Linked DNA regions of Homo sapiens: region 2 is linked to region 1. The links come from fine-mapping of genetic effects on plasma protein levels. Region 1 holds a variant in brackets. A gene starts in the other region. All regions are shown on their forward strands.

What was found. PIP is the posterior inclusion probability: the model's chance that the variant is causal. Protein levels are from antibody-based Olink assays in UK Biobank. Linkage for the fine-mapping came from a reference panel and not from the study's own genotypes, which makes the PIPs less certain.
Region 2: it holds the start of CDH17, and the variant in region 1 is fine-mapped to the plasma level of the CDH17 protein (UK Biobank, PIP above 0.99).

The regions. Positions count from the first base shown.
Region 1 is chr7:100,937,090-100,953,137 of GRCh38, forward strand. It overlaps MUC3A (mucin 3A, cell surface associated), which reads left to right and starts at 12,445. Exons shown (of 12, transcript NM_005960.2): 1 at 12,445-12,596; 2 at 14,752-16,048. The coding sequence starts at 12,536. LOC105375431 (a long non-coding RNA gene) reads right to left here. Exons shown (of 3, transcript XR_007060457.1): 2 at 9,478-9,662; 3 at 4,970-5,247. RefSeq lists enhancers at 6,512-7,061, 11,984-12,962, 12,963-13,941, 13,992-14,537. The variant T/G (reference allele first, on the strand shown) is at 11,737.
Region 2 is chr8:94,200,060-94,216,107 of GRCh38, forward strand. CDH17 (cadherin 17) reads right to left here and starts at 8,496. Exons shown (of 18, transcript NM_004063.4): 1 at 8,424-8,496. It also overlaps the pseudogene RPL6P23. RefSeq lists an enhancer at 6,023-7,222.

The sequences.
Region 1 (16,048 bases):
AGGTTGATTCCATGTCTTTTCTATTGTGAATACTGTTGTGCCATGGGTGCAGGTGTCCTTTTGGTAGAACAATTTATTTTTTGGGGGGATAGTTACCCAGTAGTGGGGTTGCTGGGTTGGTTGGTACTTCGACTCATAGTTCTTTGAGAAATATCCGAACTGCTCTTCGTAATGGCTGAACAATTTACATTCTGACCAACAGTGAATGAGTGTTCCCTTTTCTCCACAGCCTTGCTGCCATCTGTTTTTTTTTTTTTAAATATATGAGGAAAGTCTTGCTCTGCCACCCAGGCTGGAGTGGAGTGGCATGATCATGGCTCACTGCAGTCTCAGACTCCTGGGCTCAAGCAATCCTCCTGCCTCAGCTTCCTTAGTAGCTGTGACTATAGGCACACACTACACCAACACACACAGATAATTTAAAATTTTTTTTTTTTTGGTAGAGATGAGGTCTCACTATGTTGCCCAGGCCGGTCTCCAACTTCTGACCTCAAGGGATCCTCTAGCCTCTGCCTCCCAAAGTGCTGAGATTTCAGGCATGAGCCACTATACCTGGTCTTTTTTTTTGACTTTTTTTTTTTTTTTTTTTTTTGAGGTGGAGTCGCACTCTGTCGCCCAGGCTGGAGTGCAGTGGGGCCATCTCAGCTCACTGCAACCTCTGCTTCCCGGGTTCAAGTGATTCTCCTGACTCAGCCTTCCGGGTAGCCAGGATTACAGGTGTGTGCCACCATGCCCGACTAATTTTTTTGTGTTTTTAGTAGAGACGGGGGCCAGGCTGGTCTCAAACTCCTGACCTCGAGTGATCTGCCAGCGTCAGCCTCCCAAAGTGCTGGGATTATGGGTGTCAGCCACCATGCCCGACCTTTCTTGACTTTTTAACAAAAGCCCTGATAAATGTAGTTATACCCTGACTTTGCCTCACTATAGGCCCCTGTGCCCACAAACTTCCTATGGTCACTTTCCTAATATCTAAGTGTAAAATTGAGATTAATATCCTCACCACCCTGCAGAATTCCCACACTGACTTCCTAACCTATAGAATAAGAAATGTTAGGATGAGACCAGTGGATGGCTCTTGTCAAAATAGTAAACCAAAAGCAATTCTGCACTGCTGCATTTAATCACAGTGATTTTTTTTTTTTAAAACAGTGTCTCACTATGTTGCCCAGGCTGGTCTTGAACTCCTGGGCTCAAGTGATCCTCCCGTCTCCCAAAGTGTTAGGATTACAAGTGTGAGCCACTGTGCCCAGCTGAAAGATTCGTCTTGACATAACAAAGAATCGCCCTCCAAAACCTATTAATGATTGGCCGGGTATGGTGGCTCACACCTGTAATCCCAGCACTTTTGGAGGCCGAGGTGGGCAGATCACCAGGTCAGGAGATCGAGACCATCCTGGACAACATGGTGAAACCCCATCTCTACTAAAAATACCAAAATTAGCTGGGTGTGGTGGCATGTACCTGTAATCCCAGCTACTTGGGAGGCTGAGGAAGGAGAATCACTTGAATCTGGGAGGCAGAGGTTGCAGTGAGGTGAGATTGTGCCACTGCACTGCAGGCTGGTGACAGAGCGAGACTCCGTTTCAAAATAAACAAATAAACATATAAAAAAAACCTATTAATGACCTTAGCTTTATAGATGTACTTAGTGCCATGGTCTGAATGTTTGTGGCTCCCCGAAATCCATATATGTTGCCATCTTAACCCCCAAGGTGATGATATCAGGAGGTGGGGCCTTTAGGAGGTGTTTTAGTCTGTTCTCACATTGTTATAAAGAAATAACTGACACTTCGGGAGTCCGAGGTGGGTGAATCACTTGAGGCCAGAAGTTCGAGACCAGCCTGGCAAACATGGTGAAACCCCTCTCTACTAAAAAATGCAAAAATTAGCTGGCAGTGGTGACACACACCTGTAATCCCAGCTACTCGGGAGGCTGAGGCAGGAGAATCACTTGAACCCGGGAGGTGGAGGTTGCAGTGAGCCAAGATCGCACCACTGCACTCCAGCCTGGATGACAGAGCAAGACTCTGTCTCAAAAAAAAAAAAAAAAAAAAAGAAGGAACTGAGACTGGGTCATATATATGTTTAATTGGCTTAGGGTTCTGCAGGCCATGCAGGAAGCATGGCTGGGGAGGCCTCAGGGAGCTTTTACTCATGGCAGAAGGCAAAGCCTGAGCAGGTGTCTTCACACAGCCAGAGCAGGAGGAAGAGAGAGAGTGGGGAGGTGCCACACACTTTTAAACAACCAGAGCTCATGAAAACTCTACCACAAGAATAGCACCAAGGGGATGGTGTTAAACCATTTATGAAGGATTCACCTCCATGATCCAATCACCTCTCACCAGGCCCCACCTCCAGCACTGGGGATTACATTTTAACATGAGATTTGGGTGGGGACACAGACCCAAACCATATCAGGAGGTGATTAGGCCATGGTGGTGGAGCCCTCATGAATGGGATTAGTGCCCTTATGAAAGAGACCCAGAGGCCAGATAAGGTCATACCCATAATCCCAGCACTTCGGGAGGCTGAGGTAGGTGGATCACTTGAGGTCAGGAGTTCGAGACCAGCCTGGCCAACATGGTGAAATACATCTCTACTAAAAGTACAAAAACTAGCAGGGCATGGTGGCACATGACTGTAGTCCCAGCTACTTGGGAGGCTGAGGCAGGAGAATCATTGATCCTGGGAGGAAGAGGTCGCAGTGAGCCCCAAGCCTGCCTGGGTGACACAGTGAGACTCTGTCTCAGGAAAAAAAAAAAAAAAAAAAAAAAAAGGAGACCTAGAAAGACCCTTGCCCTTCTACCATGTGAAGACACAGAAAGAAGGAACTGTCTATAAGCCAGAAAGCAGGATCTCACTAGACACAAAATCTGCCTTGATCTTGGACTTCCCAGCCTCTAGAACTATGAGAATAAATGTCTGTTGTTTATAAACTACCCAGTTTACAGTATTTTGTTGCAGCAGCCTGAACAGACTAAGATACTTTGCTGATTTTTTTTTTCTTTTTTGTAGCTGTCCTTTAATAGGTTGAGGAAGTTCCTTCTATTTACTAGTTTTCGGAGAGCTTTTATCAGTAATGGACGTCAGATTTTGTCAAATGCTTTTCCTGCATCTATGGAAATGATCATGTGGTTTCTCATCTTTAGACTGTTGACATAAGAAATTACATTGATTCATTTTCAAATGTTTAACCAGCTTTGTATCCCTGGGATTAACCCCACTTGGTCATGATGCATTATTTTTATGTATTGCTATGTTTTATTTCATAATATTTCCTTGAGGATTTTTGTGTCTATATTCATTAGGGCTATCGGTCTAGTTTTCTTGTAATGTATTTGTCTTGGTTTGGTATCAGAATAATGCTGGGCTCATAAACAAAGTTGGGAAGTGTTCCATTTTCTGAAAGAGTTTGTGTACAGTTGGTATGATTTCTTCCTTAAGTGTTTGCTGGAATTCAATAGTAAAGCAATTCAGTCATATTAGCAAGCTTAGATCTTTCTATAGGAAAGACCGTGGTATGATTTTTTTTATTATACTTTAAATTCTAGGATACATGTGCACAACATGAAGGTTTGTTACATAGGTATACATGTGCCATGCTGGTTTGCTGCACCCATCAACTCGTCATTTACATTAGGTATTTCTCCTAATGCCATCCCTCCCCCAGCCCGCCAGCCCCCAACAAAGTCCAGTGTGCGATGTTCCTGCCCTGTGACCAAGTGTTCTCATTGTTCAATTCCCACCTATGAGTGGGAACATGCAGTGTTTGGCTTTCTGTCCTTGCGATAGTTTGCTAAGAATGATGGTTTCCAGCTTCATCCATGTCCCTGCAAAGGACATGAACTCATCCTTTTTTATGGCTGCATAGTATTCCATGGTATATATGTGCCACATTTTCTTGTCTTTTTATTCATTTTCTTTTTTTGAGATGGAGTCTTGCTCTGTCACCCAGGCTAGAGTGCAGTGGTGCAATCTCGGCTCACTGCCAGCTCTGCCTCCCGGGCTCATGCCATTCTCCTGCCTCAGCCTCCTGAGTAGCTGGGACTACAGGCGCCTGCCATCACGTCTGGCTAATTTTTTGTATTTTTAGTAGAGATGGGGTTTCACCACGTTAGCCAGGATGTTCTTGATCTCCTGACCTTGTGATCCACCCTCTTCAGCTTCCCAAAGTGCTGGGATGACAGGCGTGAGCCACCACATACTTTTAAATAAAACGTACACCTCAATAAATTCACTAAGACCAATCATGCTATAGATATCTGGGCTTGCAATTCAAGAATAATATCATTAAAATAAAAGTTTTAAGCACACACTTTAAGATCACCAATGGTGGAAAACCAGTTTTAACAATAATATATTTATTTTTTATTTTATTTATTTATTTTTTGAGATAGAGTCTTCCTCCGTTTCCCAGGCTGAAGTGCAATGGCACAATCTCAGCTCACTGCAACCTCTGCCTCCTGGGTTCAAGCAATTCTTCTGCCTCAGCCTCCCAAGTAGCTGGGATTACAGGTGTGAGCCACTACACCTAGCTAATTTTTTTTTTGTATTTTTAGTAGAGACCGCGTTTCGCCATGTTGGCCAGGCTGGTCTTGAACTCCTGACTTCAAGTGATCCACTCACCTTGGCCTCCTAAAGTGCTGGGATTACAGGCATGAGTCACTGCACCTGGCCTAAAAATAATGTATTTATTATTATTTTATTTTTTAAAACACAGAGACGGCTGGGTGCAGTGGCTCACTCCTGTAATCCCAGCACTTTGGGAGGCTGAGGCAGTTGGGTCACCTGAGGTCAGGAGTTCAAGACCAGCCAGGCCAACATGGTTTAAAATACAAAAATTAGCAGGTCGTGGTGGCATGGGCCTGTAATCTCAGCTACTCGGGAGGCTGAGGCAGGAGAATTGATGGAACCTGGGAAGCGGAGGCTGCAGTGAGCTGAGATTACACCACTGCACTCCAGCCTGGGCGGCAGAGTGAGACTCCATCTCAAAAAAAAAAAAAAATTAAAAATAAATAAATAAATAAACTGAGAGTAGCAGTTTACGGTCTCCGCTACTCAGCAAATCCATCTTTTGGTTTCATTGTTTTGTCCCAAAGCTTCAATCAGGCTCTTGGTGACTGTTTACTGTCTGGTGTAAGGAGCAGGCCAGTGGCACCCTTGGTATTTATAGGAGGGCGATAGTTGCCTCCAGATCCACTGAATGTGGCAGGCTAGTGTTCACAGAACTTTCAGATGCACCAGACTCTAGGAAGAAGACAAGAGGAGACAGAAGAAATTAAATTAATCAGAGAAAGGCAAGATCCCATTTCCCTGATTTGATATGACTTCGCTGAACCTCCAGAAAAATCCTCAAGCTGACCTGGGCTTCCGTTTACGCAATCCTCGGAAAACAATGACCATATGAGAAATGTTTGCACAAGCTTTGAGTTGTTTTTAAAACCCCATAAATCCATAAATGTTGACATTTATTACTCTTAATGTGAGCATTCTTTCTAAGAGGATATGTTCCATATTTAAATTTATGAGGTTATTTTTCCTCCTTAGAATCAGAAACGATAGCATATTGCAAACAGAAACTGGCAGGCTCTTGCTCTCTCCCTCTCTTCCTTCTCTTCTCAAGCTTGGGTGTTTGCATTCAATCATAAAGGGTGTGATGAATTCTTCAAAACTGCATTAAAGCAGCGGCCATAAATGAAACTGCCAAAAAGAACGTGAAAAATAGTACTGGCTGCTTTCTGAAATGTCCCTGTGTGACCTTAGGTTTCTGGAGATTTTGTGCAAGTGTGAATTAAGCATTTGATTTTATCTTAGGAATAATGATGCTCGCATGAAACAGGCAAGGAAGGACAGAAAGAGAAGGAAAGAGAGAAACTGATTGAAGAAAAATAAACTTCACATGGAACAAACTTCACATGAAAACATGAGATTTTTTCTTTTTTTGGGATGGAGTCTCACTCTGTTGCCCAGGCTGGAGTGCAGTGGCACGATCTGGGCTCACTGCAGCTTCTGCCTCTAGGGTTCAAGGGATTATCCTGCCTTAGCCTACCAAGTAGCTGGGATTACAGGCGTGCACCCCCCATACCTGGCTAATTCTTGTATTTTTAGTAGAGACGGGGGTTTCGCCATATTGACCAGGCTGGTCTTGAACTCCTGACTTCAAGTGATCCACCCATCTCGGCCTCCCAAAGTGCTGGAATTACAGACGTGAGCCACCATGCTTGGCCGAAAACAGAAGTTTGAAAAAATTTATTGAAAAACATTTTGCCTATGATTCCAGTATCATAAACATACTATAGGACTCCAAAACCCAATAAAATTATACTGTGATCCTGAAAGTATCTTAAGAGGCATTTAATATACAATGTCCATGAATATCAGGTTGAACAGTGTGTTTTTAAAATATACATTTGTAAATGCTGTTTGTATATTACATATATTAACCCTTTGTCTGTCATTCAGATTGCAAACAATTCTGCCACTACTTTGTATTGTTTTGATAACTTTCCCCCACAAAATGTTACTTTTTAATGTAGTAGGATATGTGTAATTTTATTTTTACAGCTTTCAGCTTTCTTGTTTTGATTAAAATAGTCTCCTCAGCTCCCAAATTATACATATAGTCTCCTAAATTTTCCTTTGGAATTTTTAGGTGGTTTTTAAATTTTATTTATTTTTATTTTTTGAGACACAGTCTCACTCTGTCGCCCACCTGGGCTGGAGTGCAGTGGCGAGATCTCTTTGTGTGGCACACAAGGCCCCACCAGGGGTCTGATCCTGCTTGATGGGATCTTGATTTGCATAAACCATACCCCTGCTGGGATCCCAGCTGTGGTAGATTGTGTTATTGTTGAAAATATTTGCTTTCTCTCCCTTGGGTAGATCATACCTCCCTGTCTCGCTGATATCACGCTTGATGTCTGACTGGCAGTGCCTCTCTCTGATAGTATTTTATATCCAGGGCGACCTTGTGACTTGCTTTGGCCAATAAAATTTGGGTGGAAGGGACGCACATCGTCTCTGGAAAGAAGCTTCAAGAGCCAGCTGGTGGTTTTGCCATCTGTCACCCTCTACCACCATGAGACTGGCAATGTCCCAGACGGGGGTGGTTTGGCCAGCCCAGGTCCCAGAGTGAACATGGCATGGATGAGAGCACAGACATTGAAATGGGCAAGCGGCATGAGCAAGAAATACACCTTTGCTGTTGTAAGCCATATAGCCTTTAGGACTGTTTGTTACTGCAGCATAACCTGACACTTTCTGACTGCTACACCAAACTCGCTGGCTTTGAGAGACTTTACCCTTTTTTGCTTTTTTTTTTTTTGAGATGGAGTTTTGCTCCGTCTTGTACAGGTTGGAGCACAGTGGCATGATCTTGGCTCAATGCAACCTCTACCTCCTGGGTTCAAGTGATTCTCCTGCCTCAGCCTCCTGAGTAGCTGAGATTACAGGCGCCTGCCACCACGCCTGGCTAATTTTTATATTTTAGTAGAGATAGGGTTCACCATGTTGGTCAGGCTGGTCTCGAACTCCTGACCTCAGGTGATCTACCCACCTCGGCCTCCCAAAGTGCTGGGATTATAGGCGTAAGCCACTTCTCCCAGCCGAGGAACTTTACTCTTAAAGCCAAGTATCAGCTTGTCATCTACCCATCAAGCAAGCTGATTCCCCCTACCCTAGCCACCATGACTTCAGAGACAACTCTTGTGGGTCCCTGGACTCCCATCAGCTGATATTATCGGGACAACTGTAGCTGCAATTCACATAATCACACAGTGGCCAACCTTCCCAACCTCCTCCTGCCTCACTCACTCCTCCTGGGAGAAAGACTGACCTATTCCCCAGCCCTAGTTTCCTTTTTTTTTTTTTTGAGACAGTCTCATTCTGTTGCCCAGGCTGGAGTGCAGTGGCATGATCTTGGCTCACTGCAGCCTCCACCTCCTGGGTTCAAGCGATTCTTGTCCCAGAGCCTCCCTAGTAACTGGGACTACACAGGTGCGTCACCCTGTTCAGCTAATTTTTGTATTTTTAGTAGAGACGGGGTTTCTCTATGTTGGCCAGGCTGGTCTCACACTCCTGACCTCAGGTGATCTGTCCAGCTAGACCTCCCAAAGTACTGGAATTACAGGCGTGAGCTACTGTGTCCAGCCCATAGCCCTAGTTTCAACATGTCCCTCCCTAATCCTTGATATTTGGGGGCTGGTCCCGGCCTGTACGTTTCTGGATTCACGTCTTCCCCCAGGTACCTGTGACAAAAGTGACCTTGGAGGGAGACCAGTGCCCCCCACTGACTTCCTGTGCATTCCATTTCAGTGTCACTAGGAAGGGACCCGATGGCAAGTGTCACTGATGATTGGGCCGACACTGCCATCGTCAGCATAGTCTTCCCACAGCTCTGCTCCTTCCTTCTCCCCAGCAATCCTCTTGCCTGTCTTGAGCTCTGGCTGGAATCTGATTAATTTCTGGAGCCAGCTCCCAGTCTCAGTTGTGTGTGGGCAGCCTACAGTCAGCAGCATCTGACATTACAGCCATGTCTCCCAACCCCAATAGAACACTCTTTTCTCTTCCATCTTCTCCAGCTTCCCCACGAAAGCTGGACCCCAATGTGGGCATGGGGCATTCTCAAACCGCAGACAGAGGATTCCTGCAGTCTTAGCTCATCCATCACCTCCCTGAGTGGGGCGGGGCTCCTACCCAGGCTCTGCAGGGAAAGTGGCCACTTGTCCCCATTCAGAATGCAAAGATGTCACCTTTCCCTCTCCCTTCTGGGCAGGCGTTCAAATGACTGTGCTCCCAGCTAGGAGATAGTAAGTTTGCATCATGGGAGAGATTTCAGTAATGAGCACCATTAATTTCAGGAGTGGGCCAGATGTGGTGGCTCACACCTGTAATCACAGCACTTTGGGAGGCCAAGGTGGGAGGATTACTGGAGGGCAGGAGTTTGAGACCAGCCTGGCCAATATGGTGAAACCCCATCTTTACTAAAAATACACAAAAAAATTAGCCAGGTATGGTGGCACATATGCCTGTAACCCCTGCTACTTGGGAGGTTGAGGCAGGAGACTCTCCTGAACCCATAGGCAGAGGTTGCAGTGAGCCGGGATCACTCCATTGCACTTCAGCCTGGACGACGGAGTGAGACTCCACCTCAAAAAAAACAAAAAACAAAAAAAATTCCAGGACTGGAAAAGGTCACTTCCTGATTGCACATGACTTCCTGGAGGAGGTGAGGAAGGTGTAGAACTGTAAAGGAAAGGTGGGATTTTCACAGGTGAGAGAAAGCGGAGGAGCAGGAGGGCACTGCAGGTGTAGGAATGGCTCAGGCAAGGGCCTGGAGTGGAGCAGAGGCTGAGGTTGGGGGTCTGGTGGCTGGAGCAGAAGGGGGTGTGGGTATTAGAGAGGTGATGGACAGAAGGGGTGGTGGATGGGGGTAGATCTGGGATCCATCTCCCCAGGAGCCTGGTGATCTTTACTTACAACAGGAATCCATTTTCCATTTACGTCTGTGTCTCCAGAACAGTGATGGGAATTTTATGGTGTTTGATACTTAAAAAAAAAAAAAAAAAAGACTGGAAACCCCCGAAACCTCCAGCTTGGTTTGCAGCGTCTTGGCTGGCTGTGGTGCTTGACCATGTGGCTCAGCAGTTTCCACAGAGACTGCTCTGAAAAACAACAACAAAACTTTTTGCAAACGAGTATCTTCATGCTGGGCAACTTGATCAAATGTATTAAGAAATTGAAGTGGAAGACCCCAAGAGTAGCCCTGCTCCCTGTTGGCCCCTCCCCTGAGTTACCCCCAGTGGTGTCATTGTCGGGCTCTGAGCTCCACCTCATTTGGACTCTTTAGCTTTTCATTTCTTTGCTCACTTCCTCAACTTGACCACACACACTGAGGCCAGGGCTATACAATGTGTCCCCTGGATTTTGGTGCAGCCATTTGCACAACCGATGCGCAGGCAGTGTCACTTGGTGGGTATGCACAGCGCCTCTTATTTAGGGTCCCTTCAGTGACTCTCGATAAGGACAAGGTCCCCCAGGAGACATGAGAGGCACAGCCCCTCACGAAGATCTCCCAGCGGGCCTGGCCTCAGAGAGTTCGCTGGCTGCCTTTGCAATCCTGTCCCTTGGGCCTGCTGGGAAGAGGAAGAGCTGCAGTTTCTCTCCGCAAAGCTTCTTCCCTTAGGGATGGTCAGACCTATTTAGATCTATTTTTCTTTTTATCTTTTTTTTTTTTTTGTAGAGATGGGTCTCGCTATATTGCCCAGGGTGGTCTTGAGCTCCTAGCCTCAAGTGATTATCCCGCCTTGATCTCCCAAAGTGTTGGGATTACAGGTGTGAGCTACTGTGCCTGGTCTGACCTAATTTTATTTTATAATTTTTTTTTGAGACGGAGTCTCACTCTGTCACCTAGGCCAGAGTGCAGTGGCGGGATCTTGGCTTACTACAACCCTCACCCCCTGGGTTCAAGCAATTCTCCTGCCTCAGCCTCCTGAGTAGCTGGGATTACAGGAGTGCACTATCATGCCCGGCTAATCTTTGTATTTTTAGTAGAGACGGGGTTTCGCCATGTTGGTCAGGCTTGTCTCAAACTCCTGACATCAAGTGATCCGCCCACCTCGGCCTCCCAAAGTGCTGGGATGACAGATGTGAGCCACTGTGCCTGGCCCTGACCTAATTTTATATTCATAATTTTTTTTTTTTGAGACAGGTTTTTGCTTTGTCACCTAGGCTGGAGTGCAGTGGCTCGATCATGACTCTTTGGAGCCTTGACCTCCTGGGCTCAGGTGATCCTCCCATCTTGGCCTACCAAGTAGCTGAGACCACAGGGGCACACCACTATGCCTGGCTAATTTTTTTTGTGTTTTTTTTTTTTTTTTGGTAGAGATGGGGTCTTGGCATGTTGCCCAGGCTGGCCTGGAACATTTGGGCTCAAGAGATCCTCCTGCCCCGGCCTCCCAAAGTGCTGGAATTACAGGCGTAAGCCACTGAATCTGGCCTGAGCACAGTGTTCTGTAGGGTGACTATTCCATCTTCTTTCTGGGTTGAAACAATCGTTTGGGCTGTTTCCAATTTCCATCAAAATTGCCATAATCGAGAGTCAATAAACATCCTCATGAATGCTGCCTTGAAGGGTTTCTTGGACACAGAGATGGAGGGTGAAATTGCTGGGTCCTAAGGCACTCATTTAAAATTTTAATAGATGCCACCAAATTACCCCTTTAAAGCAACCCAACCCACCTACACACCCACCAGCTGGATAAGAACATTTGTTTTACTTTATCTTGTTTTTGAAATGAAGTGTCGCTCTGTTGCCCAGGCTGGAGTGCAGAGGCACGATCTCAGCTCATTGCAACCTCTGCCTCTGGGGTTCAAGCAATTCTCCTGCCTCAGCCTCCCAAGTAGGTGGGATTACAGGTGCCCACCCCACGCCAGGCTAATTTTTGTATTTTTAGTAGAGATGGGGTTTCACTATGTTGGCCAGTCTAGTCTCGAACCCCTGACCTCAAGTGATCCTCAAATTACTCTTTTAAAACAACCCAACCCACCTACACATCCACCAGCTGGGTAAGAACGTTTATTCTTCACACCTTTGCCCAAACTGGATAGGTCAAACAATGTGCTGGGTCCAAACCAGTTTTTTTTTTTTTTTTTTTTTTTTGAGATGGAGTCTCGCTCTGTTGCTCAGGCTGGAGTGTAGTGGTGTGCTCTTGGCTCACTGCACCCTCCACCTTCTGG[T/G]TTCAAGCGATTTTTCTGCCTCAGCCTATTAGTAGAGATGGGGTTTTGCCATTTTGCCCAGGCTGGTCTCGAACTCGTGACCTCAAGTGATCCACACCCCTCAGCCTTGCAAAGTGCTGGGAATACAGGCGTGAGCCACCGCGCCGGGCCCAGACTAGTATTTTTGAGTGTTTCCTTTGGTCATCCATGTTTCCTTTTCTGGGACCTAGCCCCAACTCTTCAGATAATAAAATGACTTCAGATGGAATTCTGTGTTAATTACTCCCACGGTTTTTTCTGGCCTATGGGGTCCTGCGGGGGACAGGATGGAGCAGGGGCAGACTGAGGGACAGAAGGGGCTTGAAGGAGAGCGAGGTGCCACTGTCTCCCCAGCAGGAGGAATTGAAACTCAGGAGAGGCTGCAGGAGTAGGACCAGACTCCAGAGTCCAAGCCCTCGGTCAAGGGTACCCTCCACGGGTGTCGGGGAGGAAGGGCAGCTTCCAGGCAGTTCCATGTGGGCCAGGCAGGCTGTGGGGCTGAGCCAATAGCAGCTCTTCCTGCCTGACACTTCCTGGACTTGTCCTATCTTTTTCCCCCGTGTCCCGCTTCCCACAGCGCTGACGTCTGTCTGTCCGGGTGCAGGGAGAAGGGAGGAAGAGGGGAGAGGTGGGGCGGTGCAAAGGTGAGGCTGTGCTCAGCCCTGACGCTCAGCAAAACCGATAACCAGCACTTTCATTACGTGCACGCCCCAGGGCCACGTCCCTGCCGCTGTCTTGGTCCTGAAGCCTGTTCTGCCCCAGCCCCCTGCCCGCTGGGCCCATGCAGCTGTTGGGGCTCCTCGGCCTCCTCTGGATGCTCAAGGCCTCCCCGTGGGCCACAGGTAAGGGGGAGAGGCGGAAGGGGGTTGGAGAAAAGCTCCTGATGTGATGTTCCAGGAAAGGGGAGGGAAAAGTGGCTGTAAGGCCTGGGGAGGGGGGATAAGAAGGCACCGCTTGGGGCTCTGGGTGCAGGGAGAACCGAGGCACGGCCTGACTGGGGGAGGGGGCGGTGAGGAGAGGTTTCTTCCAGAGCTCCAGGTGCAGGGAAAACCGAGGTTGGGAAAGAGTGAGGGAGCTGGGTCTCTGCCACTCTCCACCAAGCACTGAGCAGGTTGCAGCGGCTGAGCCCCAATCTGTATCTGCAGCTGGAGGGTAGAGGGTGGGATTTACGTCTTCCCAGAGCAGTGCCCTTCCTGTCTTGACTCCTTCTGTCACCTGCCTCACGCCCCCAGCTTGAGTGTCCCCTTCACACTGGCCTCTCCCTCCCTGACAGCCCTCTAACTTCTACCCCTGGTCTCGGTCCTCTGGTTTCAGCCTCTCTGCCTTTTGTCCCCCGGCGGCTCCTCCCCAGCTCTGCCGTCACTCTCTTACCCCGGCCAGGGCCCATGTGTCTGGGTACAGCTGTTGGTACCAGGGCCGGGGCAGGGAGCTCCTGATGTCCACTTCGCTTCCAAGGGTGCGTCTGAGACTACCCGTCGTGGGGTCCCAGGCTTCTCTCTTCTGCCCTGCAGGAACACCTCGCAATTCCTCTATACTTCTCTTTTCTCTGTACTTCAGTGTCTGCTTCTGATCCCCGATCCCAGGCCACCCAGCCTACAGGCCCATGAGTCCCCTTCTCAGTCACCTCCAGGGCCACATCCTGGAGCCAAGGGCTGTAGCCTGGGGATTCTCATAATCCCTGACCCCACTTCCCTGGCACCCACGAGCTAGGTTGAGACGTGACACCCCAGCTCTCAGCCACAAGATGGGCTGTGCCCGAGGTGAGGGGTAGCAGGTCGGGTACCTCCCACTTCCCATCTGCTGTGGCTGCCTGTCTTCCTTGTCCCTGACACCCCCGACAGCCGGATCTCTGATCCTAACTCTGACAAATTGTGAAATGGGTTGAAATCCACATGCTGGGGTTCATGCTTGTAAACTAATGAATCCCACGGCCAAAAGGGAATAGTATAGAAAAATATGTCTATTTGTGTGATGAACACTCACTGCTAAGCCTTAAGGTCTCCAGAACTCATCACGCCTGACTGCTGAGGTAGCTCCTTCTGGAAGTTTCCTTTTCTATGCTGTCTCTCTGCCTCTTCACCTAGTCCTCACTCCATGCCCTTTGAAGTCATTAGTGTGTGAGCTTAGCCTGTTTCTCTTTGGTGTTCTCTGGGCAGTTTTTTGTTTTTGTTTTTGTTTTTGTTTTTGATGGAGTCTTGCTCTGTCACCCAGGCTGGAGTGCAGTGGCACCATCTCAGCTCACTGCAGCCTCTGCTTCCTGGGTTCAAGCGATTCTCCTGCCTCAGCTACAGGTACACGCCACTACGCCTGGCTAATTTTTGTATTTTGTTTTAGTAGAGAAAGGGTTTCACCATGTTGGTCAGACTGGTCTCGAACTCCTGACCTCAAGTGATCTCCTGCCTTGGCCTTTCAAAGTGCTGGGATTACAGGCATGAGCCACCGTGCCTGGCCCTCTTTGTTCAGCTTTCCCTGTCTCCTGGTTTTTGTGATGCGCCCCCTGCCAGGACATGGCTGGGTTCTCTCTTTTTCTCTTTGAAAGCGGAGTCAGCCCAGACAGCAGCAGGGTGCCGGGAGAAGCAGTGGTGGGAGCAGAAGGTTAATGGGGGGATGGGAGCACTCCAGGCAGTAGCAGGGGGAGGAGAGGAAGGGGCAGAGGGAGGAGGAGCCTGGGTGTGACCAGAGGAGGGAAGGGAGGGGAGGGAGGCTCTGCCCAGCTCGGCTATATCAGGACAGGAGGACCTGCCATGACAAGGCCAAGGCCCGGTGAGGAATGAGGGCTCCCATGCCCCACTGCTCCCCTAGGAGCAGACAGGCAGTCGTCTCCAGCACCACAAAGCACCCAGCTCCAAGCTGCCTCTGATGCAGGAGTCAGCTGTAATATGCCCTGCCCTCTGTGATGCTGCCTGGAAAATGGGTGAGTGAGTAGCTTACATGAGTGATGTAACAAAATGACCCACGGATTTACCAGTGGATTCCTCTGCTCTGCCGCCAATGCAGGAACTTTATCCACGGCCACATCCATCTCTCAAGTGCCTTTCCCCAGAGCAGAAGCAGCCAGCGCTGTGCTCAGCAATTCTCCACACTCCAGAGACCTGGCTGGGTGGCCACTTGGTGTCCCCCAGCTCGCCTCTCCTGCTCCTGGCCACAGGGAAAATGCACCTATGACACTCACTACCTCCCCCCATGACACACTCATCTCTGAAACATTGCTCAACTCTCCAGTCAGTTCCAACACCTCAACCACCCCGACGTCCAAGTTTGCCTTCAAGGTTGAAACCACTCCACCCACCGTGTTGGTCTATTCAGCCACCACTGAGTGCGTGTATCCAACGAGCTTTATAATCACCATCTCCCACCCCACCTCCATCTGTGTGACCACGACGCAGGTGGCCTTCACCAGCTCTTACACCTCGACTCCCGTGACACAGAAGCCAGTGACCACCGTCACCAGTACTTACTCTATGACCACTACTGAGAAAGGAACGTCAGCCATGACATCTTCTCCCTCTACCACCACTGCAAGGGAAACTCCCATAGTGACAGTGACACCCTCCTCTGTGTCAGCCACAGACACAACCTTCCACACTACAATCTCGTCTACAACTAGAACCACAGAAAGGACTCCCCTGCCCACTGGAAGCATCCATACAACCACGTCCCCAACCCCAGTATTTACTACTCTCAAAACAGCAGTGACTTCCACTTCCCCCATCACTTCTTCAATCACTTCCACAAATACAGTGACTTCTATGACAACGACCGCCTCCCAGCCCACAGCCACTAATACATTGTCATCACCCACTAGGACCATTTTATCTTCCACACCTGTCCTGAGCACAGAAACAATCACCAGTGGTATCACAAACACCACCCCCCTATCCACCTTGGTGACCACACTCCCCACTACCATCAGCAGGTCTACACCTACATCTGAGACCACCTACACTACTTCTCCCACCAGCACTGTCACAGACTCCACTACCAAAATCGCCTACTCCACAAGTATGACAGGTACATTGTCCACAGAGACTTCTCTCCCACCCACCTCTTCCTCTCTCCCAACCACAGAAACAGCCACGACTCCTATGACAAACTTGGTAACCACCACCACTGAGATCTCCTCCCACAGTACTCCCAGCTTCTCTTCATCAACCATCTACTCCACAGTCAGCACATCCACAACTGCCATCTCCTCACTTCCCCCTACCTCAGGTACTATGGTGACTTCCACAACCATGACCCCATCTTCTCTGAGTACAGACATCCCTTTCACAACACCAACAACTATCACCCA
Region 2 (16,048 bases), not on the chromosome of region 1:
CATCCTCACAGCCAAATGAGGCAGCAAGGCAAAGCCTTTACCCGAATGATTCAAGGCAAACTACACTAGTGCTAGGATTATGTCAAAAGAGGACTTTGGTCTCTCAAACAGGTCCCACCTACACTTCCTCCTTCCATGGACACAATACCATTCAAGTGTGGGGTACCCTGGGTCGCAATGGTGCTGATGGGAAGCCATCCTTCATCACTGAAATTGCCCGAAACCACCAAGCCAGACACCTAGGTTTCCTCAAAAACACTACTTGGAAAAGAATTGAAATAGATTTCCAGAGGATTCTGTGGCATTTTATCTGAACTACCTGTAATAATTGGCCAACCGTCTGCGTGGAATTTTTGCCGTTTGTCAGGATTTCCCTCAGATACAAGGACTAAATTCAGACAGTTACTACAGCAATTATTTGAGAGACCAAGCACACCCTTTGCAACATAGATCAGAGGGTTATTATTATTATCTTTTGTTTTTTTTTTTTTTTTTTTTTTTTTTTTTTTACAAAAAAAGGAGTTTTGAAAAGAAGGCCTCGGTTCCCAAACTGTGGCTGCCCCTCACCCAATGGGCACCACCATGACCACCACTTGCTCAACAGTAGACCAGGGCACCTGCTTGCAGACGGGAACCAGGGCTGCTGGGCTTGCTCTGCAGGAACAGTGCCTCATTTTAATCTACCACACAACAGAAGACATGGGAATCCCGCCGCGGCCTGGATCTGCATCCAGCCCGGATAACGACAAAGGCAGCAAACATTGACTGAAAACAATTTGCTGCATGCACCGATAAGACTTGGTGGTGAAAAACTATCTTGCTGATTTCTCAGAACAACTCTATGGAGCAGATGCTATTATAATATACCTCTTAAAGATGAAATGAAAAATCAAACGATGAAGACCACAGAAATTAAGAGACTTGCCCAAGGTCACAATGCCAGGCTAATTTTCACTCCCTCTGAAACACAAATATCCTGATGATGAGACACCAAGTATCATTTAATCCACTACAGATCTTTCCAAAATGTTGAAAAGGTTTTTTCCCCCTACTTTGCAGCTGCTCTTTTTTTCAGATGCTGACATGACCTGCCCCGACCTGCCTGGAGGAAAAGGCTGCCTTGGTCTGGGAAGTTTTGTTTCTACTGCAAATGTATCTCTGTGTCTCACTATTTCTCCTCATTTCTGTGCTTCACCTTAGGAATCTTCCCTTTTTTAAATCAATCCAAATGCTATGGGTAGAATTGTGTCTCCCTCCCCCTCAAAAAGCATATGTTGGAGTCCTAACTTCCAAGCACCTCAGAATGTGACTTTATTTGGAGTCTTTACAGAGGTAACGAAGTTAAAATGAGGTTGTTAGAGTGGGCTCTAATCCACAATGACTGATGTCCTTCTAAGAAGAGATTTGGAGACAGGCTCATCCACAAAGAAAGAACACTGTGTGAATGTACAGACAGCCATCTACAAGCCAAGGAGAGAGGTGCACAGAAGATCCTTCCTTCACAGCTCTCAGGAGGAACCAACCCTACTGCCCTCTTGATTTTGGACTTCTGGTCACCAGAACTGAGATGGTAAATATCTGCTGTTTAAGCCTCCCGTTCTGTGGTATTTTGTTAAGGCAGCCCTAGCAAATGAAGACCCCATGGAACTTTTGTTTAGCCTGTGCTGCTGTCCCAGGACAGAGGTGGCCTCACAGGGGGCTCTGCTCAGTCATTAGACACCTAGGGACCCCCCGCATCCCAGCAGCCCACCCAAGGCTTCCTTGATTCTCCCACCAGGCTCCAAGCTCCCAAGGGGATTAACGGCATTCATTTATTTTTTTTTAGTTACATAATTAGGTTCTTCTTAAGAAATTTAGAACACCAATTTGTGAGGATAAATTCCATTCACCAGGGCACACACAGATTGCAGGTAGCCCTGGAGCTGAGGAATAGCTTTGAGTTTTGGTAAAATTTGCCAGTCCATGGTTTTCTGATCAGCCTTGCACTGCTTTGTAGTCTTACATTTCTCTTTTTCTGTCAAAGATCTCACCCTCCTACTGACTAGGCTTCCACAACTGCTTCTTAAAGTAGGCATTGGTAAGATGTTTTGGGTTTCTCACACTGCTGGTATCGATTTTTTTTTTTTTTTTGAGACAGTCTTGCTCTGATGCCCAGGCTGGAGTGCAATGACGCCATCTCAGCTCACTGCAACCTCCAGCTCCCAGGTTCAAGTGATTCTCATGCCTCAGCCTCTCAAGTAGCTGGGATTACAGGTGTGTGCCACCATACCCGGCTAATTTTTGTATTTTTAATGGAGACGGAGGTTTCGCCATGTTGGCCAGGTTGGTCTCGAACTCCTGGCCTCAAGTGATCCACCCACCTTGACCTCCCAGAGTGCTGGGATTATAGGTGTGAGCCACTGCACCCAGTCCTGATATCAATTTTTATGGAGGTGGTGATGACAAATTTCTGGTGTGTCCTTCACAGAGGAACTCCATGGAAGACCAGAGGTCCAGCCACAAGTAACAAGCTACTGCCCAGCTGCTCCAGGAAAACCACCCTCCTGCCTTGGTGGCACCAAGGGAGGATGAGCAGAATGGTCTCGAGGGCCGTGCTGGCTCCAAGTTTTCTCACATGCTGACTGCAGAGTTTCTTGCGATGGCTGGACAGCTTTTGAGGCACATCTCTGTTGGATAATATCAAGGCATTTTGTGAAGTTTAAATAGCCAGGCATCACCATTCTTGTCACCTCAACTGGGTTTGTAACGGTTGCGAGATTCTTTTCAATCTTGGGTTTAGCAGCTAAGTACCTCCTCTCGTACATGGCCTTTCTGGAATACATAGCAGATCAGGAATATCTGCCAATTCCTCCAATGAGGACAGGATTTTGGGCTTCCCCTTCTTGGGCTTTTTAGCTCTGAGGTTCCCCTTTTCACCTTGCCACTGGCAAAGCCTTGTTAGCTTCAGGTTTCTTCTCCTTAGTATCCGGCTTCTCAACTTTTTCACCCACCATCTTGCAAGATGGGAAGGTGATGTTTAGACGCTCTTGTCATTTACCCATTTATTTGAGTAAGGACAAGGAGTTTCTACGTCCCAGATCTCCAGATTTACAAGTCAACACATAAGCATTGATTTTTGTCCCCCGTGAAAAAAGCTAAGTGATAGACAAATCTTAGAGTCAGTCATCTCTTATTTATTTATTTTTTAAAAAGCATGAAGGGCTTTGAATTAAAATAATTCACCTAGCACTAAGGCTGAGCCATGAAGCTTCAAAGAACAAAGAAGTTGCAGAAGGAGAGAGCTACAGAATTTGTTTTCAAATATCCTAAGGTAGTGTGGGCAGGAAGGGATGTGACTGGAATTCATAACACCACCAGGACCAAACAGTGCCAAATATCCTGTGAGCCATTTATTTTTCCTCCTCACTGTATATTGCTAAGAGCGGCATAAATTATAAGGCAAGGCCAGATAGATATAAAGATCAGATGAAAATCTCGCCCAAACCATTTTTCATCGATTAATGTTCAGATCTGCCACGCCCATCTTTTTGGTCTGGCTCACAGATCTCTGGCACCAATTGCATCACTCAAGGTTTAGAGAACCGCAGAAGCATCTGACCAATTTGCACTTTTGACAAATTAAGGACCCAATTAAAGTGGCCATTAATAAGCTAGAAACAAGCAGACAGGTATAAATCTGGGCTTCTGCCTCACACTTCAAACAGATTACTCCACATGGGGAGGGAATGGGCAGCTGGATGATTTGTTTTTAGAGCAGAGAGGAAGACAGGGAAGAAGGAAGGAAAGGAGGGAGGGAGGGATGAACATACATACATAAACATAAGCCCAGCTTTCTGTCACTAAACTCTGTAATATAGATATGCCAATCTTTCAGTATATGAAAATCTGGATTTACACACATGCAAAATTAGAGGTGATGATTTGTTCTACCAATAGGTTCATGATAGGGAAGATGGGCTCACGGGAGGCTAAATGGTCCCCTGGAGAACTTAAAATGGTTTAGATTGATATAATCAATTATAATACACATTACTAGCATAATTATTCTTTTTTTAAAAAATGTTTGTCTCACTTTTTCTTTTTTTAAAAATTTTACTTTAAGTTCTGGGATACATGTGCAGAACATGCAGGTTTGTTATATAGGTATAGACGTGCCATGGTGGTTTGCTGCACCCATCAACCCGTCATTTAGGTTTTAGCCCCACATGCATTAGGGATTTGTCCTAATACTCTCCCTCCGCTTGCCTCCCACCCCAGGACAGGCCCCGATGTGTGATGTTCCCCTGTGTCATGTGTTCTCATTGTTAACTCCCCCTTATGAGTGAGAACATGCAGAGTTTGGTTTTCTGTTCCTGTGTTAGTTTGCTGAGAATGATGGTTCCCAGCTTCATCCATGTCCCTGAAAAGGACATGAAATCATTCTTTTTTATGGCTGCATAGTATTCCATGGTGTATATGTGCCACATTTTCTTAATCCAGTCTATCATTGATGGGCATTTTGGTTGGCTCCAAGTCTTTGCTATTGTAAATAGTGCTGCAATAAACACACGTGTACATGTGTCTTTATAGTAGAATGATTTATAATCCTTTGGGTATATACCCAGTAATGGGATTACTAGCATAATTATTCTTATTAAAGAAAAGAATAACAAGTTCCAAGAAATATTTGAGAGAGGTGTCATGTTGTTCCTGGTTGGCGTTTGTTCCCCCAGTGCTCCCCAAGACAGAGCAAGGGAAGGATCAGCTGGGGAGAAGAGGCCTCTCCTCCAAGTCTCCCAAAACATCCCAGCATTGAATGGAAGGGGGGCCAGAGCAGTCACAGGAAAGGGAGCCACTGACCTAGGGACAACAGTGACTGTCCCACCAGGGCACTTGCCTGATGTTGTAACCCATTTATACCTGAGGTTGCAATTTTTTGAATTTTTGCAATCAGACCTTGACGATGACCTTGTGCAGAAGGATATAAATAACTCCCACATGCTTAGTGTTCCAATAATGGAACACTAGGCATAAATGGGTTTTAAGCAGGTAGCCAGGAAGAATTTCAGCATTGACTTCCCTCACGTGTGCAGCTATATACCCGCAAAAACCCTAGAAGGTGGCAGGGGGAGACCCTTTCTCCCCCAGATCTAGCAGAACAATATCACAAGCATCTTCCCTGGACTAAAGAGGAGGACTGGAATCACTATTTCTCATAAAGGGTGGCTTGACTTTTTTTTGACAAAGTGTTTCTTTATGTATTACACAACATTTCTTTATGTAATATAAAGTTTACGGATGAGCATTTTGTCAAGATAATAAAGCAACACATCCTGGCCTTAGAAATTCAGTAGGAAGTAAATCTAAATTAGGTTCCATCCCATAGGATTTAGACACTGAAGGATCGAAAGAAAGAAAGAAAAGAGAAGAGAAGAGAAAGAAAAATACTCTAATACCAGTTCATTTGCAAAGTGACCCAAGGCAGGAATTTTAATGCCAAGAATGTGCAGTCATGCTTAAGTATGGCAGGTTCACTTTCCAATTTCTGTAATTAAATCGTAACTGACAACTGGGATGGGTAGGAGAGGAAGGGAAAATAAATTTAATTCTGCTTAATAAAAGGTGCCAGACCACGATGAAATCTCATTCATGAATTGTTTTTTTTTTTAATCATTGGAATTGTTTTAAAAAATAGCAAATGCTCAACAAATGCAAGCTAAGTTAAACACTTTGGACAACTTACTTGAACAACACAATCATATAATGTGGGTCCTGTTGTTATCCCACAGAGCAGGAAACTGATGCTTAGAGCGCTTGAGGAAGTGGTGTGAATGCAGGGGCCAAGCACCAAGCCACTCTGCTAGATGGCCTCTTGGTGAGGAAGAGAACTCATCTTTAGCTTAGATGTTAAGGGAACAAATCTACCATTTCCATTCTCCTCATCCGTCACTTAAGAACAAGTCCTAATATTTTTAAGTAATAAGTATATGGTCAAAAATGAATAACTCAGAAATATCATGAATGAGAGAATTCCATGTCAGTCTTACAGAATATTTGAAGAGAAATTTTCTTTGTACCACATACACAAAAATCAAGCATAGCTTAGCTTGTTACGTATTGCTTAAGTGAAAAAAAAAAATCAACTTTAGTGTAGTTAATACCTCAGCCACTAGGGGAATATCTGCTTTTATTAAGTTAATATTTCTTGTACCTAAGTAAACATTCCTTCTTCTTCCTGTCTGTTCTTACAAGTAACAAATAAGTAGATAGGTATTCCCTTAAAATTCCGTGTGTCTTTCTTTGGATAATCAACGAGCAGTTACAGAACAACTAGCCCCATTCTAAATCTGATACCAGAGATTTCTGAATCAATGCAATTTTATGTCAAATCTATACATCTCTACCCATGTGAACCAGCTTCTGTTCAAGCACTGTTTGTCGGCCTCCAGAGCAAGGAGCATGACAATGCCCAGCTTTCCTCCTCAGAGCTGTTGCTGTTAATGTGGAAGAAAAATGAGGGACACATCCTTCTAGACATTTTTTTTGACAATGGAACGAGAAGTAGAGTTTCTGCCAGGATATATTTTGCACATCATCCAGATTTTTTTTTTTTTTTTTTTTGAGACAGGTTCTCACTCTGTCACCCAGGCTGGAATGCAGTGGCACAATCATGACTCACTGCAGCCTCAACCTCCTGGGCTTAAGGAATCCTCTCACCTCAGCCTCCCAAGTCGCTAGGACTATAGGTAAGTGCCATCATGCCTGGCTAATTTTTAATTTTCTTGTACAGTCTGGATCTCCCTATGTTCAGACCTTCCAGGCTGGTCTTGAACTCCAGCACAAGCGGTTCTCCCTCCTCAGCTTCTCAAAGTACTGGAATTACAGGAATGACCCACCACACCCAGCCATATTTTGCCTTTTGTATGAGAAAGGAGGAGGTACCGGAAATGTAACCTTCACCTTGAACAGTGATGACTTTTTTCAGGGGTCATCTGGGTGAGTTTCAAAGGATGCCCCACCTGCACCTCACCCAAAGACTTATATGGGAACCATGAGAGGGGCTTTAAAATGCTATATATATAGCAAAACCAATAGTTTTATTATTCTCATATTTTTGAATCCTACTTCCTGAACATAGAATTAGTTCCTCTCTTGCATAATGGTAGATGCTATTTTTATGGCATCACTGATTTTTTTCTTATTTTTCTAAAGAATGAAACAAAAATTTCTCAATTCATCCTGAGTCACCTACTTGAACTTTCTCATGGAACAGAGCGCTAACATTCACTGGATGTGTACCATGCACCAAGCAACATAGTAAGCTCTTTACCTACTTATCTAATTTACTTCTCACAACTACCTAGTTAGGCAAGTCTCTAGTGGCAGCTCTCTGTTCTGTGCCCACAGGTTGGAAAATGATGAAACTGGCCTAACCCATTTGGCCAACCCTGAAGACTCATATGGCCCCGTAACTCACTAGAAACCCTCTCTCAGTAAAGGACTCGCTTTGTTTCCTGGTGAGAGCTGAATAGCATTCATCTTCCTTTCATCTAAACATGTGTTTTTTCTTCTTCTTTCAAATAATGCCTCATTTGCTATTTAAGCTTTTGAAGAAAAATAAAGACAAGAAAATATTAGAGAAGGCACTGTCCTTCCAATCTGCTGCTTGGCATCCCCTACCACAGAGGGCATCTGTCCCTATAAAGTCACCTGTCATAAAAGACCAAGACAGAGGCAAATATCGGACCATTGAAGATACCAATAAGCTGTGTGTGGCTTAACATAAAAATAACCACACATTAGCAGGTGGTAACTCCACCACCAAGGCCAAAAGCAGCCCAGGAAGCTGATTAACACGCACATCAGCCTCTTCTCTCACTTGTGAAGGCAGGTCTGTCTGTCTTCAATTCTTATTCTAGTACTTTTACAAAAAGACTTTTCTTCTTCTCTGCATGTTCCCTCCCTTGCTGTGTCCTAGACAATTCTAAGAATCCCAAATTGAATCTCATTCTCTGAGAAGTAGATAGAATGACATGCTTTTTGAGAATGTGATTCCAACCCCAATTTCTAGAATACAAGAGCCCTAGAGCATCTTAAGACCAGGGACTTTTATATACTCATCACAAAGAATGGATGTGATACTTGTTTAAACATCAGAGAACTCAATTTCCCCTTTAATTCCACTGCCAAGCTTGATTTCACTGCAGCCACTTCATCAAATGAATTTATAAAATATGGACCAATGAAAAGAAACTACAAAAAAAAATTGTGCTCCATAAGCAAAACTTGTCATGCCAGCAACAAATTTCCCTTCTCCGCATCTGCATAGCCCACCTCAAGGAACAAATTTGTCAAGCAACTTTTTAAGTGCCCTCCCCCTCCATCTACTTTGTCCTTCTGGAATAAATACGTTACTGACACAGTTAAGACATGTCAGCCCTTACCTTTCTGTAAGTCACAAAATGGTGGTTAAAAGTCCTTTTCTTCCATTCAGTGGTCGAGACTCTTGCTACGACTGGAGTATCTCCCCCGGGAACACTCCCTCTTCCCTGCTTTGCCTCCCAGCCTCTCCCTTCAGCTTCAGTCAAACATTAACCATTAACATTTTTTATTGCTCTTCGAGAGCCACTGGGTATCATAAAAAGTGTCATTACTTTTACTCCAGGAAAGAAATGACTTTGTATCAAAAGAAGTTTAACTTACATCTAATCCATCTCAAAACAGGTTGCTACATTTTTCAATGTAGATGAGTCAATGAAAAGACAAGAAGTTAGAGTGGAAAAGTTTTTGTGTATCCAACTATCTCTAGAGTGTGAGGTTCATGACATCAAAGACTTTCCATATTTTGTACCCCCAACACTTAGCACAGGAGACTTGATCAGCAAATATTTATGTAGATTCCATCTCAAACACAAAAGACGGAGCAGGGGCGCCATGTCTGAGCAATGACACAGTTCATTGATAACCAGCCACATGAGATATCATAAATGACTCAGAAGACATGAGGAAAGACACAATATGGCTGTGCCTGCTTTTGAAATCCAAGGGTCCCTTCCAAAGTCTGCAAGAAACAACCGATAGCAAATTTCCCCCAAACACAAACCAAGTCCTTTTTTCCCCCCCACAATTCAGGGAATGGATTTACCTAGGAACAACTTATTTTTCCCCAATCAAAATGAGGTTTTTGATTAACCAATAAAAGCCAATGCCCCCAGATTTCTCAAGTCAAGGCTTCTTTTAGACCAATTCCTGATTTCCACACTTTGGTCACTCTGGGAATCCACACTGAAGGTGAGCATCAATGTCATGTCTGTGTCTGGTGTGTTACACTTGGCCCTGTTTCTGTGGACCTTCTCATGTTCATTTCTTGGCTTCTCCTGAGCTGAGGTTGTGTTTTCCATTCCTCTCCAGGTGTGCATCTGACAGAGGGAAAGCAAGAGAGCCCAGCCCACTCTCTAGAAGGGCTCCCTCCTTTCCAGATTTCATGAGAAGGTTTCATGAGTGCTCTAAGCCACTGTGGGAATAGACCTCATTTATCCTGAGGACCCTGCAAGTGAAACCATCTAGTTGCATGCCAGCTGTTAACATCCTTGGTGGACTGGTGGGTTCAGCAAAGGCCCTTCTTGCTTTGTCCCACAGCCAGCATCACTCATTTAGAAGAATGAGGTTATTGAGGCTAAGCACTTCTCACATTCTTCACACCTCTGCCCTCCCATTAGCTGAATAAAGTGTGCTTGTTCTACAAAATCAAATCGCTTCCACTTGCCACATGTTTCAGTTCCTGGAATCAAGGGCAAGCATCTCATCACACAGCATTGTTCATAAAGAAGTTTGGGTCTTCTTTGAAAATTTTAAAATAATAAAGTGCTTTTAAATTTATGAGTTTTTTTTTTTCAAAAATAAAGTGCATATGTATCATTTATAGTCATTGTTTTTCAGCAACAATAACAATGATCGTGACATGTTGGTATATCAATTAAAATTCTGTTTTCTCATTTAGCATGTCTGCAAAGTAGATTCCAGTTTATAGACAGAAAATGGGGACACAGAGAGGTTTTATTTCTTGTCTAAGTCACACAGCCTTTGACTACAGAATCGGGACTGCAACCCTGTTCTGATTCAAATCCCATCCTATTCACTACAGCTATAGACTCTGCCAGATTTTTTTCCTTCCAGCTTTATGCGAGTAAAAAAAAAAAAAAAAAAAAAAAAAAAAGTCCAAGGGCAGAAATCCCTGCATGAGCCCATTCCTGTTGGAAGATGGCCAAGTTCCGAAATGGGGTTCCTCTGTACATCACTTGCTATCTCTAGCCCCCAGCTTCCAGCTCAAAGAATTAGGTTAATTAAACACTGAAAATGCCTAAACCACCCATCAGAGAAATTAACAGGTGATTATTGCATTTCTGAATTACAGAAGCTATTTCTGTACTGTGGGATACCAGGTTAACAAGATTCTGAGAGCTGTTCATATATTCCTTACATGGTTTAGACATCCTTCCAGATTAAATCCAAATGTTAAGAATGTGCACGTTTCAGGTAGCCACCACTGCATTTTAGGAACTCATTTTCATGAAAAGTGAGACATTGCTGGTTCAATAGACTTGCTAATAATAGGAATAAGGAAAATGTAATTGATAAATATTACTGATTTAATTTTCCAAAGCAAAGGAGGTATGATTTATAGGATGAAAACAACTGAAGGCCAGGCGCAGTGGCTCACACCTGTAATCCCAGCACTTTGGGAGGCTGAGGCAGGCAGATTACCTGAGGTCAGGAGTTTGAGACCAGCCTGTCCAACATGGTGAAACCTCATCTCTACTAAAAATGCAAAAATTAGCCAGGTGTGGTGGCAGGTGCCTGTAATCCCAGCTACTCAGGAGGCTGACTCAGGAGAATCATTTGAACCTGGGAGGTGGAGGTTGCATTGAGCCGAGATTGCACCACTGCACTCCAGCCTAGCCGACAGAGCAAGACTGCATCTCAAAAAAAAAAAAAAAAAAGAAAACAAAACTGAACAAGTGAAAGGACTTGGGCTAATGCTTTCAACTCACAGCTTCATGGTGGTGAAAACATTTCAACGCTTTTGTCTATAATGTTTTAAGCATTCCTCCAATATTATCCCTAGAAAATACAAATGTCCATAAATAAGTAATTAATTTATGGACATTTGTAAGAAAGTCTAGATAGCCTCCCAGACAAAAAAGTTATGAAAACTTGGAATTATTCCTAAAAGTCAAAGCATGTTACATTTCTAATATTTATATTCTTTTTTATTTTATTTTATTTATTTTTTGAGATGGAGTCTTGATGTCCCCAAGGCTGGAGTGCAATGGCACAATCTCAGCTCACTGCAACCTCCGCCTCCCAGTTTCAAGTGATTCTCCTGCCTCAGCCTCCCATGTAGCTGGGATTACAGGTGCCCACCACCACACCCGGCTAATTTTTTATATTTTTAGTAGAGACGGGGTTTAACCATGTTGGCCAGTCTGGTCTTGAGCTCCTGACCTCAGGTGATCTGCCTGCCTTGGCCTCCCAAAGTGCTGGGATTACAGGCATGAGCCACTGCTCCTGGCCTATTTTTATTCTTTAAAACTCAAAATGAAATCTATGAGTGGTAAATTTCTCAATTTTTCAAGTACTTGCATTTTATGTTCTTTATGTGTTACATACTACACATTCAGAATATTTTATCATGAGTCCATCAACACACAACCCTCACCTAACAGAAGTGTAAAATAATATTTTAATTACTTAATATCTGTCTTGCTCTGTTAACTTGATGATGGCAGAAACTTTGTCTTCAATTAGTACTCAATAAGTACTTCTTAGGACTCAACTCCATTCAGTTATTTAATTCAATAATTCTAAATAGTCATGATTACCTGCAGGCTCAACCAAGGCCAATAGGAACCCAGAAAAGCAAATAATTTTGAACCCCCTGAAACCTAGAGTTCACAGTTTTTGTTCCACATTTATTTAGTGGAATGAAGTGAAACTAATTTTCTGCTAGTCATTGTTTTAGGCTGAAGCAGAATCTTTCTTAACTACTTTTGCTGGCCAGGACAGAGTCCATTTTCTGATAAATTTAAGCAAAACAGGTCTTACTTCCATGTAGCTCTTACTTTTTTGGAGACAGGGTCTCGCTCTGTCACAGGCTGACAGGCTGGAGTGCAGTGGTGCGATCTCGGCTCACCGCAGCCTTGGCCCTTCAGGCTCAAGCCATCCTCCCACCTAAGCCTCCCAAGTAGCTGGGACTACAGGCACACACCACCATATCCCATTTTTTTTGTAGAGATGGGGTTTCATCCATCCAGGCTGGACTCCAACTCCTGGGGTCTAAGATCTGCCCACCTCAGCCTCTTAAAATGCTGGGAATACAAGTGTAAGGCACTGCGCCTGGCCTATACTTACTTCTGAGTTTGGGTTTGGGGTTTTTGTTTGGAGGCTTCTCTGTTGTTGAGTTTTTTTTTTTTGGCAGTTTTCCAAACCAGAACACTTGAGAGAATTATCACAAGATTTAAAACTTAGATAACAAAATGAATCACTAGTTCTAAGTAAGAAACACTGAATCATACATAATGCTGTTTAAAAATCTTAGCTGACAGCCACCTTGCGATATTCTGAAAAATATTTAAGGAAGATAGTTTGAGGTTAGTAAAGATTTTCTTCCCCACTATCTACTCTGACAGAAGTGGACCCACTTTGTACTTTGTTTATTCCAGGAAGATTTTTAACTTCATCTATAGATGCTGGCTCCAAGCAACTGCCCAGCAGGCGGGGCCCTCAATCTGGCTCCAGCTACGCATGCCATGAAGTGGCTGGAGAATCTCATGAATGGGATGGCTAGTAAGTATTCACATCATCAGTTGTACATTGGACAAATGCCTTCCAGGTCTTTCCAAACTGAAGTTCACTAAAACTGGGGCTTACACTATGAAATCCTGGTTCAGGGTATGTCCCTGGGTCCCTTGCTCTGTTGCCCAAGCTAGACTGCAGCATGTAATCATGGCTCACTGCAGCCTCGACTTCCTGGGCGTAAGTAATCCTCCTGCCTCAGCCTCCAAAGTAGCTAGGACTACAGGCAAGTGCCACCACACCAGCTAATTTTAAAATTTTTTGTAGAGATAGGTTCTATGTTGCTCAGGCTGCTCTTGAACTCCTGAGCTCAAGTGATTCTCCTGCCTCGGTCTCCCAAAGTGCTGGTATTACAGATGTGAGCCACCATGCCTGGCTGGCACTCTGGATTTCTGATGCAGGTGATTACATAGGCCCTTCTGAGAAACACTAGCTTAAGGAATCATTGCTTTATCCTCCAGTAAATATTCTTCAGCAAAGCCTATTCTGAATTGAGATTAATTACCCCACCATGTAGAACCCATTTCTGCAGGAATGTCTGAGATAATGATGCAGTCGGTCTGATGTTGAACATGCAAGCTGGATCTGGTAGACATGAGCATGCTCATCTTCCCTCAGACATTTTTTTCTCAGACAGCTAAGCTTTTTATTTGATCTTGGATTTTCTTTAAATTCCAAGAAATGACCATCATTCTTATTGGTTTTCTGAGACCTATCTCTGTCTCTTATCAGATTTCACCTAACAAGCTTTTGCTCCCATCCAGCTCATGCTCAGATCACAGTGTCTGGCTTCCATCTTCACTGCTCCACTGAAACCACCCTCACCGAGGTTGCCAACAACCTCCTCATGATAATCAGATGGACGCTTTTCAGTCTGCACCTCACCTGACCTCTCACAACTTTCAACACCATGGCGAGCTCTCCTCAAATTTCCCTTTACCCCGGCTTCCTTGCCAATACTCTGATTTTCCTTCCACCTCTTGAGCTAGTCCCTTGCAGTCCTACTTGTGACTCATCCAACTCCTTGGGCCCAATCCCAGGTTATCCTGTCCTGTCACTCACTCTGTGGAGGTCAACTCTGCTCCCATCTACTTGCCAACATCTCGAGTCTCTCTCTAGACCAGATCTCTCCTCTGGTCAAAGCTCTGGTTTTCTATATCCAACTGACTATTCCACAACTTCGCCAAGGTGTCCCATGTGCACAACAAACTCCACACAGCCATAGTGAACTGTACTGTTTTAATTCTCCAAAACATACGCCTCCTAGAACACTACCCCTTCATGTTAGCCCTGGTGGTCATCACCACTTAGCCAGACAGTGTGCAGTGACTGCCTAGGAAGTACTGTCATGGGGTCAAGTAGGAGACCAGCATGCATGTGAGCTTTGCTTGGAAGGACTCAGACTTGGACACTAAGGCTTATTAAATGGTCCCCCTTCTGTGCCTGTGGGTCTCTCATTAGACACCAAAACAGGATTGCCTCTGGAAATTCTGCCCTTAAGAGAAGTATTTCCTGGGAAAGAATACTCTTTTTAGTAAATTGTGAAATTGATCTTCACATGCAAAACAATGAAACTGGACCCTGACCTCACACCATTCAGAAAAATTAAAATATATCAAAGACATAAATTATAAGGGCTGAAACTATAAAATTCTAAGAAGAAAGCAGGGGTAAATCTTTATGGCCTTGGATTAGGAAATGATGTCTTAGCTATGACACCAAAAGCACAAATAACAATAGAAAAAAAAACAAATTGGACTGGACTTAATCAAAATTAAGAACTTTTGTGATTCAAAAAACACCGTTAAGAAAGTGAAAGACAATTCATAGAAGGAAAGAAAATATTTGTAAGTCGCGTATCTGACAAATGAACTGTATCTAGAAGATATAAACAACTCTTACAGCAACCCAATCAAAAAATAAAGGATCTGAATAGAAATTTTTTAAAAGATATACAAATAGCTAAAAAGCACATGAAAAGATGCTCATCCTTAGGCATAAGCAAAATGCAAATCAAAACCACAATAAGATGGCATTTCATACCCACCAGGGTGTTTCATACCCACCAGGACAGCTATAATAAAAAAGAGATAATACCCAGTGTTGAAGATGATGTGGAGAAATTAGAATCCTCATATGCTTCTGGTGGGAATGTAAAATAACACAACCACTTTGGTAAACAGTCTGGGAGTTTTAACAAAAACTTAAATATAGAGTTACCATTTGACTTAGCAATTTCACTCCTAGGTATATAGCCAAGAGAAATAAAAACATCACACAAAAACTTGTACACAAATATTCATAGCAGCATTATTCATAATAGCCAAGAGATAGAAACAACCCAAATATTCATCAACTGATGGATAAAATGTGGTATCCATATGATAGAATATTTGTCTATCCATATAATAGAATATTCATATAAAAAGATATGAAATACTGATACTACAAGACTAAACCTTGAAAACATTATGCTTAGTGAAAAAAGTCAGACAAAAAAAGCCTAATATTATATAATCCACTCACATGAAATGTCTGGAATAGGCAAGTCCATAGACAGAGAAAGAAGATTTCGGAGTTGCCTGCAGTTGGGGGGCAGAGGGGGAATTTAGAGCTGAGAGCTAAAAGACATGGGGCTGCTTTTGAAAGTGATGAACATTTTCTAAGTTTTATTGTGGTGGTGGTTGCACAACTCTGAGAATACACTAAAAACTACTGAATTGTGCACTTTAAGTTGGTAAGCTGTATGATATGTCAATTATATCTCAATAAAGCTGTTCTTAAAAAAAGTATTCCCTGCAACTAATGCATATTCACTGCAAAATAATGAAATTGAACTGACATAAATATACAAAACATAGGCTAAACATTTTCAGTTACCTCGGTCTAGGCCCTTCAGATCATTTTGTTCTATTATCGGAAATGTCTTACGGTTTCCAAAATCATTTATTTTCCTTTAAGTATACGAGGTTTTTTTTTTTTTTTTAACTAATTTTACCTATTATTTGACCTCTTTTGTTTTTTGTGTTTTTAAAATGTGAATAAGAACATTTCAGTACACAAAGATTATCTTTGCCCTGGATAAAGTAGAAAATGACAATGTGGGCATAATGGCCCCTCAGCCCCTCTGATAGTGTCTCAGCCCAGGCAGTTCAGCCCTAGATAAACTTGACTCAACTGCCTGCCTGAACGAAGACTATTTTCTTTCTACATG